Linked DNA regions of Homo sapiens: region 1 is linked to region 2. The links come from fine-mapping of genetic effects on plasma protein levels. A gene starts in region 2. The other region holds a variant in brackets. All regions are shown on one strand. Distances are between the middles of the regions.

Region 1 (2,900 bases), 23 kb before region 2:
GCAGTGGCATGAAAATGGCTCACTGCAGCCTCAACCTCCTGGGCTCAAGTGACCCTCCCACCTCAGCCTCCTGAGTAGCTGGGACTACAGGCCTGTACCACCATGACCGACTGATTTCGTTTTTTAATTTTTTATAGAAACAGGGTCTCGCCATATTGTCATGGCTGGTCTTGAACTCCTGGGCTCAGGCAATCCTCCTGCCTCAGCCTCCCAAAGTGCTGGAATGACAGGTGTGAGCCACTGTGCCCAGCCTCACAATCCATTTTCACAGCCCTCTACGTGATCCTAATGAAACCTTGGGAACCACTGGTCTAGATCCTGCAAATGAAAGTTGCCCGAATGAGCTGGATTCTGCAGGCCTGTGAGGACCCAGAGCAGGCAGGGATCCAGCTGCTGACCTAGTTTCAGCCTCCATCCCTGGGTTCTAGGTTGCTGCCCTTTCCAAAGAAACAATGAATCAGACCAGACCACTGCATTGGCATAAGATCACACTTTAGTTCAGAGACACATTTGCATAAATACTTGAAATGGATCCACCCCTGCAGGTGGCAGCCTGAGAACATGTGGCTCTCCAAACCCTGCGACGCTGCGGCCCTTTAGGTGATGGATTTTAACACTGAAGACAGTCGTGGTCATTCTTGAAGACAGCTTGGGGTCCAGCTTTGGAGCCTGCTTTGACATTCACCATTGACTCCCTGCCCCACGCCTCTCTTGTACTAATTTTTTCCCCTGTGAGGTAGATTATTTATCGGGGAAACCAGATAGAATTTTTTTTTTCATTTAAGTTTGCTAGTCCTTTGCAAACAGACTGACGCTGAGTGTCCTGTCTGAGTCAATAAGTGCACTTTTACCTTTTAACCTATGCCCTCTACTTGAACCCGAGCAAGGTCCAGTCCACTGGACAGTTGATGATAGGGTCTGCCGCCCCATACCCTCTCCTCTTCCCCCTTAGGAATTTGTGCAGTACTGGAGGGGTTGCGGCAATGGGAGGCCTGGGTGGGCCGTGCTGCCTTGATATGGCCAAGGGACCCAGTCACCACAGTGGAGACCCTTGTCTGCACCTCAGTACCGCATGTCCAGGAGCACAAGACTGGCCCCTGCCCCCCTGAATCACAGGGGGCACAGCTGGCTTTCGCAGGGCTTGGCATCCTCGGGTTTCAGAGCCTTGTTGCAGGTGGCAGAGGCCTGGCCGGAGGGGTCCCTGCACTCTACAGTTCGCCTCTGCCAGCCGGCCCCGCAGGTGCTAGAGCACTCAGACCAGTCCCCCAGCACCCACTGTGCGTGGAGCAGCGGCTGGATGATGTTGGTGGTTGCTCTCTCTTTGCTGCTCTGCATGCTAAAGTCCACGTCATTAGGAACAAAGAAGGTGTATTTGACTTTTGGGGGGAAGACCTCGCCAGGGACTG[T/C]CAGGAGCTGCACTGTCAGAGGCTCTGGCAAGGGCCGGAAGCTCTGCAGGCGCTCCAGGGTGGCGATGGAGCCGCTGTACTTCAGGATGGTCCCCTTCACCAAGATGTCCTGCTCTATGGCAGAGATGGCCAGGTTGCCGTTGAGCAGGTACTGCCCATCAGCCGTCTTCAGCGCCAGGTAGTTCCCATCGTTCTGCACACCCGGGTGGCTCCGCTGCTTCACGTCAATATTAGTGGCACCAGCTGGGATGGTGACAATGTCATTGTAGCCATAACTGTGATAGAAACAGAAGGACACCCTTAGACCAGTGGCTGCCCAGCCCAGGTCACGATGATGCCTTGGAGACTGAAGTGGGCACCCCAGGTGGCAGACACGAAAAAAACAAAGCAAGTAATTAAGCAAGTTGCCTCAAAGTTCTCAATAAATTAGCTGTTTAGGCAGACAGAAATGTCTGTACATTGGGATTTTCAAGGGTGTTTGCTTCATCTGGCAACTCTATTTCAAAAGTGTGGTTGAGGAGTTGAGGTATGTGGGTGTTGAGAACAGCATAGAGACGAGGAGAACCCAGAAGGATGTGGAAAGCTGCACTGGTGTAGCCAAACCTGGCACCTGTCAAATGTGATCTCAAATACCTCTAGCTCCTTGCACTGGTATACAACTTTGATTGGCCACCTCCATACCCAGAGCTCAAACCCACATGGAAAAAACTGTTCCACACACCCCTTCCAGAACGTGAACAGGAGGGAAATTTCACACCACCTCTCTGAGTCAGTCGGCTCCTAGTATTTGATGAATATGGCCCTAGGGTGGGATCAGGGTGGGGTTGGGAGTTGGGGGTTTAAGCCTGCTTCTTTGAAGCCACCTTCTGGGAGTGCCCAGGCACCATGAGCACTGTGCTTCTGGAATGATAGGAAGCAGTTTTGGGAAACTGTTTCCAGTCCATTATAGGCTTAGGGCTTTAGGTAGGATGAAGAAAGATTAGTTGTTTGTTCTTTTCTGGAAATCTGGGTTCCATAGGCTGGGGAGAAAGTGAGGCGAGTGGTCAGGCGGGCTTTTTGCTTTTCTTACCATATGTCCAGCTGGGGCTAGCTGCTTAGTTTCAGACTCTTAGAGTGTCCACAGGCCCATCTGTCTAAAGCCTGAGGGAAAGTGGCCAAGGGACCCAGTATCTGAATAGTGTCTGCTTCTCTTTTTCTATGTCTTTTGAGCTTAAATGTAAAAAGAGTTCCAAGGCAGGGCGCAGTGGCTCATACCCACAATCCCAGCACTTTGGGAGGCCAAGGCGGGCGGATCACTTGATGCCAGGAGTTCAAGACCAGCCTGGCCAACATGACGAAACCCAGTCTCTACTAAAAATACAAAAATTAGCTGGGTGTGGTGGTGCATGCCTGTAATCCCAGCTACCTGGGAAGCTGAGGCAGGAGAATTGCTTGAACCTGGGAAGCAGGTTGCAGTGAGCCAAGATCGTGCCACCGCACTCCAGCCTAGGCAAC
Region 2 (2,900 bases):
TTTCTCAGAGGGATTGGAAGGGGAGATTTTAGAGACGCTGGGAGGCGTCTGGGGGGCCTCCGGGCACGGCGGCTGGAGGAGGCTCTCAGTCCTACCTGCAGGTCGGCCCCGTAGAAGGCAGCCATGGACGCATCGGCCACCAGCAGCGTCTCCACGAAGCGCGCCTCAGACACAAACCGCTTGGTCCTACTCGTGGCCCCCAGGGGCGGTGGCGGCTCGCTAGCGCCTTCTGCCTCCTCTTCTTGGCTCTCCTCCTCGCTGTCCTCCTGGTGGTCTCCTCTCTCCTGCCTCTGACCCTCTCCCGTCTCCACCTCCCACTCGGGTCCTCGCGGGAGGGGGCGGGCTCCGGCGGGACCCCAGCGCTGCAGGCGGTGCGGCTGAGCCAGGGAGCCCCCCGCGCCCTGCGGCTGGATGGTGAACTCCTCGCCGTCCAGCAGGAAGGAGCCGCTCAGCCCGCGGCACAGGCTGACCGCCGCCAGCGACTCGGGCTCCCCATTCACGGTGCCGGAGAAGAAGCAGCCGCGCAGCCCCCGCTCGCCCCCGGTCGCCCGGCCGGAGCCCCCGAGGCGCTCGATCTTGAACTCGGGCGCTAGGAAGCTGTCGTCGGGCGCCAGGCGCAGCACGAAGCCCTTGCCGAAGGCGGACAGGTGGAGCGCGAGCTCGCCCGCGCTGCCGGGCAACCGCGTGGGCACCACCAGCTCCGAGGCCTGCCCCCCGGCTGCGGGCCGGGCCGGGGCGCCGCGGGCCAGCGGCAGCAGCAGCAGCAGCAGCAGCAGGAGCGGAGGCCACCGGGGGGCGGCGGGGGCGGGGAGCATGGGGGCTGCGGCGGTGGCTGCGCGCAGGAGAGGGAAGAAGCCCGCCAGGCGCGGGCAGGTGCTGGCGGCCCGAGCGCGGCCCGGCCGCTCTCTCCAGGAAAAGCGGAATCAATCGGGTGCAAGGCCGACTCGGCCCGCGGGGCCCGGCGGCGGGAGCGCTCCCCCGGCGGCCCCTCTGGCTGGCGCAGCCCGCTCCTCCCGCGCCGCCGCCCCCGAGCCGAGCGCGAGCAGCTGGCCCCGGCCCGCGTGCGCCCGTCCTCCGCCCCTGCCCGCGCCAGCCCCGCGCAGCCGCCTCCTGCCTCCTCCCCACCCCGGGAAGCACCGAGTGGGCTGCCGAGCCCTTCTTATTTATACTTCCTTCCCGGCTTGACATAAGAGGTTTATTTTTGATCTCTCACTATTCCCGTTTCCCCTCCCCTGGGATCAGAGAGAGAAACTGAAAAGAGGGAGAGAGAGTGGAGAAAAAAAAATTGGGATGAAATGCAAAACCAATCAGGCAGCGAGACCCGTCCGCCACCCGCCCCCCTGAAGTGTCAACTACAACTTCTTTCCTTTCCCTCTACGCGTGGACCCACGTTAACCCCTACCATGCTGGACTGACCCTTTAGAAAGAGTCCCTGGGAGACCCCAACCGCTTTCTCCTCTGCGGCCAAGAGTCCAGGATGCATCTTCCGAAGAGGCTCGTGCACTGGTCTCAGCGACCCTGTTCGGATCCCTGCAGAGTCCGACTGCAGAGCCCGACACTGTTGGGATCCCTGCAGATGCCTCCGGAGATCCGACTGTGTGGGGAGAAGGTTCCTGAGCTTTTCATTGTAAAGCATAAAGGGAGAGGAGGAAAAGGTCATGCTAAAATCATGCCCTCCTCTCATCACTACTGCACAGCCTTCCTAACTTTCACTCCAAACTGAAGATGGGGAAAACAAAAACAAAACAAAAAACAACCCACCTGGTTAACCCTAAGAGGGACTCTCACTGTCCTGTTAGAGGGCAGGTGGGGCAGAGGCCAGCACAGTGGTAAGTTACCAGCACTGAGGTTGGAAGTTAGCATTTCCCCAAGAGGGAAACAGACCTCCAGTCCCTGAAAAAGGTCTTCTCTTCTGGATACTGCTAGTTGCCCGGGACTTCAAGTAAGGTGGCAGGCCCTTTCACTGCGTTGCCACAGCCCCAGGAACAAATGTGTATGAGGTGAATTTATTCTGTCCCATGTCACCACTGCCCCCTAGGGAAGGGGGTAGTATTCAGGAAGAGAGGGATGACATGGTCTCAAGACCACAAAACTGCATCCCATCCCAGTCTCAATGACACAGGTCTGGATTGGGTGGAGGGCCCTGTTCTCTACCTACAAACTCTAGACTCATCCACCAACTGTGCCTTTCTCTGAGTTGTCAATGTGGGTGATGCATTAGGAACCGCTGGGATCAGGGCCTTTAAATCCTTTGCCAATTCACCTGCCCCCAGGTACCCAGCTCTGTGCTTATGCTGGGGATGTTGACAGTCGAGGTCATCGCTGATTCTTTTCAGCCCATCTGACCCCTTCCTGCAGTGTGGTGGTTCAGCATGCATCTGAGACTCTCAGGGCTTGTTACCTCCAAAGAGGAGGCTCTTGCCCAGGGGAAAGTGCTGCCAAATTCCCTCTAAGTATCCCCCCTCTCTTTGCTTTCTCAGAAACACAGAGGGACAGCTGTGAATTAGATGAAAGGATGAACTTCCCAACCTAGCATGGTGCAGAACCTCCTTTCCTGCATAATTTATAGGATAGGAATAACGAGTCTAGAATGTTTTGGGGAAACACTTCTAGAGGAAGGACAATGGAAAGAATGGTCTCTTCAACCCTTTTCTCAAAACAAGCAAAACACTTCGTCCTAGCACAGTGTACAGTGCTTGGGACATCCTGTACAGTGCTTGGGACAGTCTGACCTGGGCAAGCAATGAATACAACTCTGTGTTGCCTCAGGGCTATTGTAACAGTTCAATGACTGGTTTTTACCTCCTTGAAGCCCCTTATTTGCTGTTTCCCAGAGTACAACTCCTGATTTTCTCTTTTTGAGACACAGTCTCACTTTGTCACCCAGGCTGGAGTGCAAT

Direction of the effects. Alleles are on the strand shown, and positions count from the first base shown. The strength of an association depends on the size of the effect and on how common the allele is.
With allele T in place of C in region 1, the plasma level of the protein whose gene starts at base 1,138 in region 2 is higher (strong association).

The links. PIP is the chance, under the fine-mapping model, that this variant and not a neighbour inherited with it causes the effect. Protein levels are from antibody-based Olink assays in UK Biobank. Linkage for the fine-mapping came from a reference panel and not from the study's own genotypes, which makes the PIPs less certain.
Region 1: its variant is fine-mapped to the plasma level of the ADAMTS8 protein (UK Biobank, PIP above 0.99). The variant lies in the coding sequence of ADAMTS8. If it changes the protein, the assay may bind it differently, which can mimic a change of level.

The regions. Positions count from the first base shown.
Region 1 is chr11:130,404,448-130,407,347 of GRCh38, forward strand. ADAMTS8 (ADAM metallopeptidase with thrombospondin type 1 motif 8) reads right to left here. Exons shown (of 9, transcript NM_007037.6): 9 at 476-1,681. The coding sequence ends at 1,111. Among named protein-coding and RNA genes, the nearest start is that of ADAMTS8, 23 kb to the right of the region's middle. The variant T/C (reference allele first, on the strand shown) is at 1,407.
Region 2 is chr11:130,427,472-130,430,371 of GRCh38, forward strand. It overlaps ADAMTS8 (ADAM metallopeptidase with thrombospondin type 1 motif 8), which reads right to left and starts at 1,138. Exons shown (of 9, transcript NM_007037.6): 1 at 96-1,138. The coding sequence starts at 815.